Linked DNA regions of Homo sapiens. The protein of the gene in region 1 interacts with the protein of each later gene in a pairwise test. Each region holds a gene or a part of one and is shown in the gene's direction. Other genes may lie near its edges.

Region 1 (7,452 bases):
TAGACTCTTCCAGGAGTGGGGTCTGAGAATCTATTTTTAAAGAAAGTTCTCCATAATTTTCATGAACATTAAAGTTTAAGGACTGCTACTTAGACTTCTCTGCAAAGACTGAAACACAGTGAATTATTGCATTTTCTCACTCTAGCATTGCTTTCTAGTGGAGGAGTGTTCCCTAGGGTTATTTGTATGCTACATTTTTATGTTAAAAAATAGATACTGCCACTTTTTCCTTAGAAGTCATGCTGATACAGCCACTAAGGTTTTTTTGGTTGTTTGTTTGTTTGAGACAGAGTCTTGCTCTGTCACCCAGGCTGGAGTGCAGTGGTGCGCTCTTGGCTCACTGCGGCCTCTGCCTCCCAGGTTCAAGCGATTCTCCTGCCTCAGCCTCCTGAGTAGCTGGGACTATAGGCACATGCCACCACGCTCGGCTAATTTTTGTATTTTTAGTACAGACAGGGTTTCACCATGTTGGCCAGGATGGTCTCGATCTCCTGACCTTGTGATCCACCTGCCTCAGCCTCCCAAAGTGCTGGGATTACAGGCGTGAGGCACCCTGCCTGGCCAAGACACTAAGTTTTGGTGGATATAGAGTTACACACCAATGAATGAATCAACCCAGATGACACTATGATTAAAATATAAAGTGTATCAATGTGTTACTCTTTGAATGAATACTGGAAAATCAGTTTTCCTCTCTGTTTTTCTTGTTTTGCATCTATAGTCCTGTAGTACTATATATGGTCCTATGCTAGAAGTAGAGGGAAAGAGTGGAGTGGGAAGGAATTTTACAAGTACCAAGAATATTGACTTGTTTTTACTGTTGTTATTACCAATAACATTATTATTTTCACAGAGCAAGCACTAAGAGAAACAGGAAATGGCTTGACCCCTAAACTGTCTTAGAAAGTTTATTCAGCCTGAACTAGTTTTAGTAGGAACATTTTTGTTCACCTTCTAATGTAGCCATTACAGAAAATAGTGGGAGCACTTCACTAGGGCTAAATTCTTAAGTTCACCTAACTGTAGTCAAAAGTTTAAAGTGTCTTAGTTTGATGTCTTTTTGGCTGGTCTATTTCATGGTATCATGTTTTTAAAAAGACTTTTTCACAAAAAGTGGAAAAAGGAAAAATAATAACAGAAGGGAACTACTACAAAAAGTGCTGTTGGAAGCCTATTCCTCTTCAGATGACACCAGAGCTTAGAACTTTTTATCCAAAGCTCTTCATTTCCTACCAATATTTTTTTTTCACTGTTCCAAAGGTGGAAGAGGCTCTGAATAGCAAAAGTGCTGTGCTTTTTAAAACCTGCTGAACAACTTCTATCTCTAAGAGTACTGAAGTTTTGCCATACCAGTTTGAGTATGACAAACTGCAAAACATATGCATAAAAAAAATCTAGACTTCTAATTGTGCCAATCCATGGTTAAAAAAAAAAACTCCTGGAGCCACGCAGCTGTTAAAATCCATCATATTTACAATTTTTATAAATGAATTTATTTTAATAAAAACAAGTTACTCTGTGAGCCTGATCTCTAAGCAGATTTATGTGGGCTGGCACAATCTGCTATGCTAAACATATATTCATATTGCTTAAGTCTGCAACCAGTTTTTTTTTTTGAGTGGTGATGATAACAGTCTTGCTTTGTAGAAGGATACCAAGTAATTGGCAGCAATTCAGCTAAGGACATTGTTCTCAGCACTGTGTTTTCTTGGACAGAATTGCCCTGTGGGCATGACCCTAAACTGGGAGAATTCTGGATGGCTGGCATTGGGCAGTGAACCAGGGAGACAGCTTATAGGGAGGAGGAGGTGACTCTATAAACTAGTGCTAAAGTAGAAGAGGAGAAGGAAGAATAAAGTGAGGGAGGAAGTGGGGGTAAAATGTGAAGTTACAGTCAACAGCTCCACATCCCTAAAGGGGTCTCTTCTCATCTTTCACTTGACACATCTTTATGCTCCTGTTTTTTGCTTGGCTACTTGATTGTAAGTTCCTGGAAGACAGGAAAGTTGACTAACTCAGCTGTACATCTCCCACAGTGCCTGGCATATACTGGCACACACAAAACCTAGTCATCGGCCGGGTGTGGTGGCTCACACCTGTAATGCCAGAACTTTGGGAGGCCAAGGAGGGCGGATCACGAGGTTAGGAGTTCGCAACCAGCCTGACCAACATGGTGAAACCCCGTTTGTACTAAAAATACAAAAATTAGCCGGGTGTGGTGGCACGCGCCTGTAATCCCACCTACTCAAGAGGCTGAGGCAGAAGAATGACTTGAACCCAGGAGGCAGAGGTTGCAGTGAGCCGAAATCGCACCATTTCACTCCAGCCTGGGCAACAGAGCGAGACTCCGTCTCAAAAACAACAACAACAACAACAACAAAAGAAAACTTGTCATTAACTGTGTAGACAAAAGAATGAATTTCTCTATTTGAAGCATTTCCAGACCTCTTCCTCGGTCTAAAGAGGTTCCCAGCGAGGGCAGTACTGCCCCTCAGGGGCATACTGAAATTTTGCCGGGACAGTTTTTGTTTTGCATTCTATTGGTGGCAGAGTATTTACATTGTGAAAACTCTGTTATTTTAAAATTTTTCTTGATATTAGTACATACAGTATTTTATTATGAACTACTTTCTCCTTTTTCACCTTTATTAGAACATTACATTGGTTTCTTGAAATTATTTGTAGAGATAGTTTGCATTAGGAATTTAACTCCAGAAGAGTAAAGCAGTGTTATATTTTTTGTTGTAAATACAGGGCATTGAATGTGGCAGGGTTGAATACCTTTGCTTATAAAATTAAGCCTTATCCTACACAAGTTTTAGGATTCCAGGATGAAACCTACAAATAAAAAGAATATTGTAGAACACTGATTTCAACGATCAGATTCCACGGCCAGGCGCGGTGGCTCACTCCTGTAATCCCAATACTTTGGGAGGCCGAGGCTGGCGGATCACTTGAGTTCAGGGGTTCAAGACCAGCCTGGCCAACATGGCGAAACCCTGTCTCTACCAAAAATACAAAAATTACCCCGGCGTTAGGTGACGGGCCCCTGTAATCCCAACTACTCGGGAGGCTGAGGCAGGAGAATCGCTTGAACCCGGGAGGCAGAGGTTGCAGTGAGCAGAGATCGCGCCATTTCACTTCAGCCTAAGCGACAACGCGAGACTCCGTCTCAAAAAAAAAAAAAAAATCAGACTTCCACTTGAAGCAATTGCATCTTTTAGGATTAATGTGGCTCAGCGGAGCTCTGCTGTGCTTTTAGGATTACTGTGGCTCAGCGGAGCTCTGCACAAAGGGTCCGCGACTGGGATGGGGGTGGGGAGTGAACGTCAAGGGGCCCAGGAGCGCTCGAGCGTCCAAGGCCCGGCGTGTGGAGCAGCTGGAGGGTGAGTCGCCGCTCTCCGCTTTGGTTCTGTTCCTCCACGTTCTGACCGCGGTGCGGGGGAAAGGGAAAGTGAGTAGGGAGGGGCGGAGACGCCGGGCAGTGTTCCCGAAACCCCTGGCCCTCGCTGGCCCCGCTGCGGGGCTGGTTCCCTGAAAGCCGACGGGATGTGAAGCCCTCGACTCGGACAGAAGCCTCTGGAAGAGCGAGTGGCGGTTCGCAGGGAGGAGGGCGGCTGAGGGGCAGAGGGCGGCTCCGCCTTGCCCGGCGGTTCTGAGTGCAGCTGAACTGAACTTTCGGTGTCAGCGGGTGGAGCTGCGGCCCGCGGAGGAGCGGGGTCCGAAGCGAGGAGAGGTGGAGCTGCCGCTGACAAGGGGCGCGGCGACTTCTGTCAGGGCGCTGGGCTCCCGGCCGGACTCGCAGCAGCCCCCCGAGGGGCGGGGCCTGGGTCGTGTCGCCCCAGGGGATGGGCGTGTGATGACAAGGGGCGTTTCAGTAGAAGCCAGCATGCTTACCTCTCACGATCCAGCAGTGACATTAGGAAGGCGGAGCGCAAGGAAGGCGGGGCTGCCTTCTGTGCTGACCCGAGAGAAGACCAGGCTTCAGTCCACAGCGGGCGGAGCGGTCGCAGGCAAAGGGCGGGGCCATTTCGAGCCCTGGGAAGGCGGGGCGTCTCCTGACAGGGGGCGGAGCTTCCGCAGTCTGGGGCGGGGCTTCTGTTGACAGGGGGGCGGGGCGCCTCCCTACCTCCCGCGGTGCGCCAATCCCCGGACTAGGGGCCGGGGTCGGACCCCAGTGGAGTAGCAGGGTCTGGGCGTGGAGAGCTCGGCGCCGCACGGGGTGGGGGCGCGCGGAGGACGCGCGCGCGGGAGGGCCCCGCCTTGGCCGGCTCTCTCCCTTCCCCCTCCGCCCCCGGACGGCCGCTGGGGCGCGCGCCTCTCCTCGCACCCCCACCCTGAGTCCCCACACTCCGCGGGGCCACCGAGCTGCTGAGGCCCCTTTGCGGGCCCGCCGAGCGGTTCCGGGTTTAGGGTTCACAGGTCAGAGTTGACTCCCTGAAAAGTGCAGCCGGTTTGAAATGCAAGATGGCGGCGGCGTGGCGCTGAGAGGCGCGGCGGCCCCTGCAGGTAGTGGCGCGAGCCGGCTCCGCGACCAGCGGGCCCGGAGACTCTGGGCTGCGGGTGGGAACTGGAGCGCAGAGTCCGCGGCCGGCACGGGAAAGGCGAGTAGCGCGGGGCCTGGCGGGAGGAGGGCAGCCTCACAGCAGAGACCCCTGGGGCTGAGCCCGCTCGCGGCGGCGGGTGGCGGGGTGGACCCGGCGTGGGGCGTCCGAGGGGGAGGGACGGGGCCTGCCTCGCGGCTGGGTAGTCGCCGCAGAGGGACAGACAGACCCACAGCCTCCCTCGCTCTTTTTGGGTGTCTCCGCCACCGAAAGAGCTTGGGGGCGGGGGGCTCTCTGGAGGGAACATCTCAGCCCCCTGCCTTGGTGAGGACCCAGCAACTTAGGATTGTTGAGAGGAGTGAAGACTGCGTATTCCCAGCGGAGGGCGCCGCCGGAGGGAGCACCCCAGTAATGTTGGGAGTCCTAGAGGAGGTCAGGAGCGCTGTCCTCCGGGGGCGTGTGGCTGCCTCGTGGGGGACCCAGTCTCCCTGAGAGTAAGGAGAGATTCTCTTGCTGGAGCTGAGCGCACTGACTGAGGTTGGAGCCCCAGCAAACCCTTCAGGAGAAGTCTTTACCTCCAGTTCAAGGAAGGCTATGCGCACCCGTTTCGGGGCCAGGCCATGTCCCAACTTTGGGAAAGACTGGGAGTTGAGTCCTTAAGAACCATATTACGATTGTGACGAAGCCCTGGGATTTAGGGAGAAGTTAATTAAAGAGGATGGTAGGGGCGTGGGGGTGTGGGGGCTGACCCATGGGAATCCTCCAAGCCTTAGGGCCCACAGTGAACAATCTACTAATACCTCAAGGGGTATAAAAGGCTGGGAAGGAGAGGTGTGAGAGGAACAAGGTCTAAGGGCAGGAAAGAAGAGCCCTGGCAGATCCCCTTTCCTTATATATTTACACCAAAGTTGGAGGTAAAGGGACTTGGCAATTCTTTGTTTTAGTACCTTTCCTGTCCTCTCTCCTCCGTGGGTAACTGTAAGGAAAGAGCATAGCCCCTGAGAAGGAAAAGATTCCATTTGATATCCTTAGCTTAGGTTAGTGAAGGATCCAGCAGCTGGGAAGGCGTCAATGAGAGACAGCAGGCGGGGGAATTAGAACAGAGACTAGGGATGAGAAAAGAGGAATACAGGGAAGATATCGGACAGAGCAGGAATTCCACAGCCCTTTTCTGTCAACTCAGCCCAGCTATTAGAAAAAAAAAAAAATGCGAAGAGCTAATATTTGAGAGAAAAATGTAAAGGCTGAGAGAGAAGTCGTGATGTGATTAGGTTGGGATTCCATGTAACTTAAGCAGTTCTCTTGGAGGTTAATGTGATAGCAGAAAAAGGAAAATCACAAAATTGGAAAATATACAGCGGTTCACGGTTAGGGAGGAAGAAGCAGTCTCCCCCCAGGAACAGTGAATATTTGGTTTGGGGTGTGTGTGTGTGTTGTGTGTATACATATATAAGAGCACTTTAGATTTGCTGGTGTTGGTCATTGTTTCTCAGTCTTTGTCTGAAAGCTTTAATTTGTGTTATATGGTGCTACATTAATTATCTTCGTTTCTGAAAAATTATTCTGAAAAAGTCATTTGTTTTTATGTCGGGAGCGAAGGTGAGCAGGAGTTGGTTTTAACAGGGAAATTGGCCCTAGTATACCCATCGATTATTTTAATTTCTAAAGTAGCAATTCTGACTCCTGATTTTAAGCAAAAGAAATGTGAGTGCTGCCAATGACAATAATGCGGTAACAGGACATAAAAGAAAAAGGGCTTTCATGAATATTTTTTTCCTTTTAGCTTTTCTCTCCTTTCCCAAAGCATGTTAAGGCTAAGCAGACTAATTTTATACAAAGTAAAATGTATAATCGTGGACCTTTTCGATATAAAATGATAGCATTTCAGTTATCAATGAATCTTTTTTGTTGAAGTACCTCTTCAGACGCCTTATTTGACAATCAGGATTAAAATGAGAAAGGGTAATACTTGGGTAACTGATGATAGTGATGATTCATAGAGATTTCTTGAACCATTCTTGTATTTTCGAAAGAGCTTTAACGTCTTCAATGGAAATGTTTTAAAGATACAGTTCAAATAGAAACTAGTTTAGAACTTTACATTTGGAACATTTTATGCACGTGTGCTGTTCTTTGGTTTCCTCAATGTTCATGTAGCTCTGGTTTTATATTCAATTCTGAACAGATTAGGCTGGGTGAACCAGAGAGGCATTAATGCCAGATGGTTTGAAAATATGCTAAATCCGAAAACATAAATGTGCCTGTGCTAGTGAACACTCATTAGTGGATTTCTTTCCTTTATAGCTAAGCTTATTATTTCACCGGATTTGGGGGGTAGTTCATGCATGATGTAGCAATTATTTCACCTTTAATGATAATTGTAAGTTCTTTTTTTTTCAATAATTGGGGACAAAGTTTTACAGTTATTAGCGAAATTAATAGCATAGGAGAGGTGGTTCATTTTGAAGATTTTTCTCCCTTTTGTATTATTATATTTTATATTAAGATGGAAAGGTTATATTATGATGTATTATATTTCTTATGCTAATTAAGCATAAAATGTGATATTTGAGACTTAGTTTGCTGTAAATTATAACTTAATACTTAAATGAAAATGCTTTTAAAATTATTAAAATGATCACAAATGTAGCTGAGGAAATAACCCTTTTATTTGTGTTGCAGCATTGTGGATTTGGGCCCAAAGACTTTACTTAAATAAACAGTGTTGAAAGTTCAGCACCTAGTTTTTAATCTAATATCATAGTCAGTGCAATTATTCAGAGAGATTTTTGGAATTATCTATTGTACTGTTTATGGTGCTAGCCAGTAATACACATTTTTTAAATCATTATAAATATTTATTTATGTTGTGATAAGCACATTTACTGTTAAGACTAAATTTTTTGAA
Region 2 (6,896 bases), on another chromosome or scaffold:
TAGCTGGGACCACAGGCGTGCACCACCACGCCCAGCTAATTTTTTTTTGTATTTTAGTAGATGGGGTTTCATCATGTTGGTCAGGCTGGTCTTGAACTCCTGACCTGATGATCCGCCGCCTCGGCCTCCCAAAGTGCTGGGATTACAGGTGTGAGCCACCATGCCCAGCCCACTTCCCTAAAAGTCTCTTATTTATTACTCCTCCCTGCCACCAACTCCTGGCAACCATTGATCTTTTTACTTTCTCTATAGTTTGCCTTCTCCAGAATGCATCTCATTGGAATGAAACAGACATAGCCTTTTCATACTGTCTTCCTTTACTTAGCGATACTCATTTATGATTCCTTCATTTCTTTTCCTGGTTTAAAAGCATTTCTTTTTATCATTGAGTAATAGTCCATTACATAAACGTACTATAGTCCATGTATTCACTTACCTCTTGAAAAATATCTCAGCTGCTTCCAATTTCTGGTAATTATGAATAAACTGCTATAAGCATACATGTGCAGGTTTTTGTGTAAACATGTTTCCTAACTCATTTGGGTAAATATCTAGGAGCACAATTGCTGGATTGCATTGTAAGACTCTGTTTATCTTTGTAAGAAACTGCCAGACTATTTTAAAACAGCTGGAACCTAGAAAGCAGAGTTTGACCTTTTGACCTTAACACATATCTTCATTTTCCTTCTGCAAAACTTCTTGAAAATTATTGAAGTAAAATTTGTTATTATAGCGAATGTGACAAGGTCTTATTCTCTTACTTTCGAATAATATAGAGAGGGATATGGATACTATACTCAGGGATTAAACAAAATAACTTGTGCAATACAAAATTACTAATCCTAGCATGATCCTGATGTTGGAAGTATACTAGTTGAATCACCAAGTCATTCGCTGACTTTTCCTAAGTCACACAGTAATAGATACTAAGCCACCACCAAATTTGAGTTTTTATCTTCTCTAAGATTTTCCACCCACAAAAGGAAATATAGAGAGGCAGGGAGGTAAGATCTTTTTCCCTAAGTGAAGTCCAACAAAGGTACCTCCCTTTGGCTCTAGCTACCCACATGACTACTTCATTAACCTGAAAGAGTAAAATTTGAAAAAAAATTCTGTCTTTAATTCATGTGAATAACTGAGGAATAATAATAATAATAATCTCAATAACTCAGTGTGTGTGTGATAATTATTTGCCATGTTTAGAGGCAAAGGGAAAACATTTAGAATGTTAGCCCTCAAAATGCTTTGACCTGGGGACACATGAGAAACACACACTAAAATAATGATTTTTGTTGGCTGTGGATAGGGGGTATGAGGAAGCTGTGGGGAGATTTTGGAATATCTGTGAAATGCTGTTCTTGATCATTCAGAATATACTCTTTCTTCCATATAACAAGTAATGCTTAGATAGAGTTAAATGTAAAGGATGAGGGGACAGCTTACTAAGATCAGATATTTTGCAAGAGTCTTATGCACAATGAGATGTATGTGAGAGACTCCATATTTCCTCTCCTTGTTTTGTTTTGTTTCCTCTTCACTATCAGATTCTAAACCAAATGAGTGAAAATAAACATGCTGTGAAAAACGTAACATATAGAGATTGATTTTAACTGTCTTTTTTCTTTCCTTCTCTTTCTTTATTTTCTCTGTTTGTAAAGTAAGTGGAGCCGATGAATCATCATCTTCTAGAAACAGCAAGAGTGGTGAGTCATTTCTCTGGAGTATGTGGCATTTCACCCACAGAAAGCATTTAACCCATGATTATCCCCTCACTGTTAATGATAACATATTTTACTTGTTCTTTTATTTCCATAAATCTACTCGACATTATTATTATGCGGAGAAAAAGATTCTGACAGATTATTCACAGCAATATACCTACATGATTAGTGGCTTTCTTTTTGTGTTATGTTTGGGAGTTTCACTTGCCTTTAGTGTTACAGCTGGAAGTTAATTTTGGAAAAACATTCTTTTCACTTTTTTTTTCTTAATTCTGCTACAATTATCATATTTATTGTTGCTATTTTAGGTTTGCCTATGTATTACAAATCCAAACATATAAAATAATTCCATTCAGTTTATGGCACTGGTAATAGCAGCAACAAAGCAAAATGAGACTATACATGTTTTCTAGGTTGTTATATTTTATAAAAAGTAAGTGGAATTTTTTCTTCATTTCACAAGAGCATCACTGTGCAGGAATGTTCCAATAGTTCCATTACCAGAGTTAGGAATACAAACGCAAATTAAAGAAAAAAAGAAAACCAGATTTTGTATAATCATCTTATTCCTTCTCACCTGATGACATAAATATGGTATTAGAAAGTTAGTCTACATCTGTCAAGATCAATTTGCAATAATATCAATTAACTTAACTTGTTAGCAGGTAACTAATTAATTTTCAACTTACACATATGATAGTAAAAACATATATTGACATTTTCTTAAATATTTAGATTAGATGATCATCCTACTTCAGGATATGTTGACTTCATTGATATTGGCATCGAGCACTTAGAATGTATTATAAAATACTGCCAATCTTTAGAAAGTATTTTCATTAACTTCCTAAACTTCATGTTTTTTATGTGAAATATCTATGAGGAAAAGAGGAAAAAGAACAAACCACTAAATGCAGCATAAATTGAGCCATAATGCTGTGAGATTTTACACCTGTGCACTTTAATGGAAACATCATATAATACTTTGTAGGGTTTAAAGAAGAATGAAAATGAACCACTATGGAAGTTACCAGAACCAATTTTCCTCCATTGGGTGGGAAATTTCTTATGGAATGTGTTCTGTAATAGTTGCTGCTCCATTAATCCTTTCATTTTATAGGTCTAGTTCCTTGTTTTGGTGTTCAACTAGTCTACAATGTCAAAGATGTGTATCAAAATGTATATATAACTGATCTATATTACAGTTTATATATATAGTTCTATGTAACTGACTCTATTTAAAAGAATTAATGTAGATAGGCCTTCTGATGTCAATGCTTTTATTGAATGTCATAATGATCAAATTTTTGGCATTACCTTTGTTCAAAATTTTGAGCCAATCTGGAACTTTATTACTTCTATATTTCTTATTTATAACAACAAGCTATATCTAGGAACAAAAGTCGTTTATTTTTTAAGGCAAGAAAAATATAAATAGAAAATTATTCGGCACTGTGTAATGTTAAAATTTACAAATATATGTTATTTCTCCATTGTCACAAGAATTCTAGTGGGTAGACAACTTAGATAATGCTCCTATATACAAAAGTAAAAACAGCTAGGCATGGTGGCTCACGCCTGTGATTCCAACTCTTAGGGAGACAGAGGCAGGAGGATAGCCTGAGCCCAGGAGTTTGAGACCTGCCTGGGCAATATAACGAGACCCCATTCTCCACAAAAAGCGGGGGAAAAAGACAACAAAACAAAAGTAAAAACAGGTTCAGAAAAATTAAGTATGTCCCTAAAGTCACAGAATAATAAGTGATGGAGGTGGAATTCAAATGTAATATTTTGTTTGTTGGTTTGTTTAGTTTTGAAGGTAACATACTTTTTAGTCTACAACCTATTTAACTACAAAAGTGTGCCAATCACTGGTATTAGGATTGGGGCAGATGTATACTCTGAAAATAAAAGTGCAAAATAAATATCCCATCTGGAAATAAAAGTGCAAAATAAAGAGGGAGGAAAAATCAGCCCTTCCATTTCTTTTCCTTTGTAATGCCAGTTGAATTGGTTTAGTGAGTAGTTTTGCAAGACTTGTTTCACTTTGTTTTTGGACATAGCTGAGCCATGTACTTCAAACAGAAGGCAGCCAATTACTAACTTCTGGTTGCTAGGTGTGGCTTCCTTTAAAATCCTATAAAATCAGAAGCCCAAGTCTCCACTGCCAGTGTGAAATCTTCAGAGAAGAATTTCTCTTTAGTTCTTTGCAAGAAGGTAGAGATAAAGGTAAGTCTTGGTTTTCCTTTTAGTTAGTTTTGGTTGTTTTGAAAACTTTTCTCATCACTATGTTAAATGTTACTGCTTCTACAGGATTTATGGTTAGTTGCATTTAACATGATAAGTCATTCATAAATCTTTCTGTAGAATTACATTGGATATTTATATTTTAGGAATCACAAATTACAATATTTTTGTTCTACTTAGTTAACAAATACAAGTAAAAATAAGATAAGTTTGCTTAATACTGGCTCATTGTACTCTTGGTAAGTTACCATGAGAAAGAAGGGAAGAATGTGCTTTCCCTCTGGTAGCCTTAAAAGAATGTGTTTTTCCTTTCCTTCCCCTTGAAATATTTCTTCCCAAGAGCTGTGTGTTTTACAGAGAAATCGTGATGGGGGCTGCTTTTTGGGGGCAAGAACAAAAGTGATAGGAGTGGGCTGCAGGGAACTGTTTCAAAATAGTAGGACTTTCATAATTTATTTTCTTCTTTTGTAAGGAAAACAAGATAGATTCAGACCTCAAAGTGCTAATCATGCTCTTTGTAATAAACATTTAAAAATATATGTTATATTTGCTTATGCTATTTAAAATAAGAAGGTCCGCTTATTACTTTTTTCATTTAAAGAGGGTGTGGCCACATTCCTTTTCTTGTAGGCTCTGTGTCATATACAGTCTTTTCAAGTGCTGGCTGGAAAACCTAAAAAGAAGGGAAATACTTTCTGGGTAGTGTCAGATACATTATCCTAGGGGAATGTCAGTGAGGCCCTCCAACAGCTATTCCACTTGATTGTTGCATGAGCTAATGGCCATAAAACTCCTTAGAAAAGCACAAAGCAAAACTAAAGAAGAGTATTTACTAGTGTTGGATATATTTGTAAAAGTGAGATTACAAATCATGTATCTGGCTATTTTTTTCTTAAACATGTTCCTTCAAGAATTTTTCTGTTCGTTCATTTTAAATATTTATTAAATGTTCTGATTTCTTATGTTCACTGCTAGCTAATTAACAAGGATGGAATTTTTCTTGCCTTGGTTATATCTAAAAGATTGTAAAAACTTTGAGAAAGCAATGTTGCCCTCTTTCCACAGGAGTATTTTGGTAGCTGTAAGAGAATGCACATTGCAAATGACTCAAATGTGGTAAAATGTTGGTTTCATAATTCTGAAATGGCCTCTTCCCCAAAAGTGACAGTAACACCCTAGCTCCAGGCTCAACCACATCCAGCACATAGCCAACATTTAACAGATGTTGACAAAATAGTTAATAATAATATTATTAAGGAACCAGCCAGAGTTTCATGCTTATTAAATACTTTTTCAACCAGAAGGTCTGCAAAGGTTGATTTCTGAATATGACGTTAGCTCTCTCTAGACCTATTAATTTACGACATTTCAAATCAGAGGTAAACCAGCAGACCTATTATTTTTCAATGATAAACTATAAACAGTTTTTTGAAGTCAACTATTTCCTTTTCCTTTAAAATTGGACAGAATTTCATCAGGAAGCTCAGAACAATCCAATTTATATAATGCCTTCCTTCATTATGCTAATTTTCTTCATCTTCATCTACTTGAAGTAATATTTAAGATTGGCACTTCAGAGCTGTAAATGGATCTTAGATGATAATTACTTCAACATTCTTATTTTATAAACGAAGACCCTCTGGAGAAGCTAAATGTTTTTCTTGAGGTCAGATCGCCAGATAATCAAGAACCAGTATACTTCAATTTGTATTTTATATCCTATAGTTGTGGGTAGAAAATGTTCATTAAATTAGTGTAGATATGTTTTTTAAAATATTAGCAATGATACATGATATTCATTCAATAATACTTATTAACATCCTAAATTCCAGGCATTTTGCTAGGGATTGGAAGTACATACATAATGAATATTATTATTTGTATGTTAGCACGGGCCTCATGGCCTGCTCCTGGGGAATATAAACAAGCCAATGGAAAGTGATAATACAGAAAGGTGGGGCTGGTGTAGGGGTGAAGTCAGGATGCTTTGGGAGAGCATGGAAGGTCACCGAATCCAGTGCTGAGGAACTAATGAAGGGTTTCTGAAGAACGTGATGAGATCAATGCTGATGAGTCACTTAGAAGTAGCAATTAGTTAGGCAAAGGGAAGTGAATGTGGAGGAGGAACAAGCATTCCAGGCAAGAAGAACACCCTATCGAAAAGCCTGGAAGCAAAACATTAGTGAGGCTACCTTTCATAAATTGCTTTCTGTAAGTCATGCCATTGTGTAGTCTTAATTGCTTTCTCTCACCAGGGAAGGTGTGGGAAGGACTTGTGAAATACATATTCGAGGAAAAACTATGCACAAGGCCGTGCATTTAAAAATAAACTCCCTAAGGCTGGGGTGAAACCTGCTACGGTCTGCGCAAGTTGACTGTTAATGAATTTGATTCTCAGGTGTGAGTGATTAAAAGAACACTGATCATGTCATTTTCTTTTTGGTCACTAATTCCCTCCCTCCCTTCTCTTTCTTTTCTTTTTTCTTTTCTTTTCTTTTTCTTTCTTTCTTCCCGACAGAGTCTTGTTATGTCGCCCAGGATGGAGTGTAGTGGTACAATCTCGGCTCACTGCAGCCTCCGCCTCTTCCTGGGTTCAAGTGATTCTCCTGCCTCAGCCTTCTGAGTAGATGGGACTACAGGTGCACACCACCATGCCTGGCTGATTTTTGTACTTTTGGTAGAGACGGGGTTTCGCCATGCTGGCCAGGCTGGTCTTGAACTCCTGGCCTCAAGTAATCTGCCCACCTTGGCCTCCTAAATTGCTGGGATTGCAGGTGTGAGCCACCATGCACAGCCAAAATATATAACACTTTGGAATCAAAAGGGATGGATTTATGTCTCCATTCTTGCCACTACTAGCAGGAAGACTGCTTGAAAATAGCACTCAGTTTTCCCAGATAGAAACTGAGGATAATGATTAAAGGCTAT

The links. The genes of interacting proteins can lie anywhere in the genome.
Region 2: the proteins of ZHX1-C8orf76 (region 1) and ANXA1 interact in binary tests that used the Homo sapiens proteins (3 or more experiments, as listed by UniProt).

What each region holds. Positions count from the first base shown.
Region 1 is NC_000008.11:123,271,274-123,278,725, reverse strand, and holds the start of ZHX1-C8orf76 (zinc fingers and homeoboxes protein 1), read left to right. Parts: upstream 1-4,439; 5' UTR 4,440-4,509; exon of another isoform or gene 4,510-4,604; intron 4,605-7,452.
Region 2 is NC_000009.12:73,147,975-73,154,870, forward strand, and holds the start of ANXA1 (annexin A1), read left to right. Parts: upstream 1-3,890; 5' UTR 3,891-3,950; exon of another isoform or gene 3,951-6,349; coding exon of another isoform or gene 6,350-6,368; intron 6,369-6,896. UniProt on the Homo sapiens protein: Plays important roles in the innate immune response as effector of glucocorticoid-mediated responses and regulator of the inflammatory process. Has anti-inflammatory activity.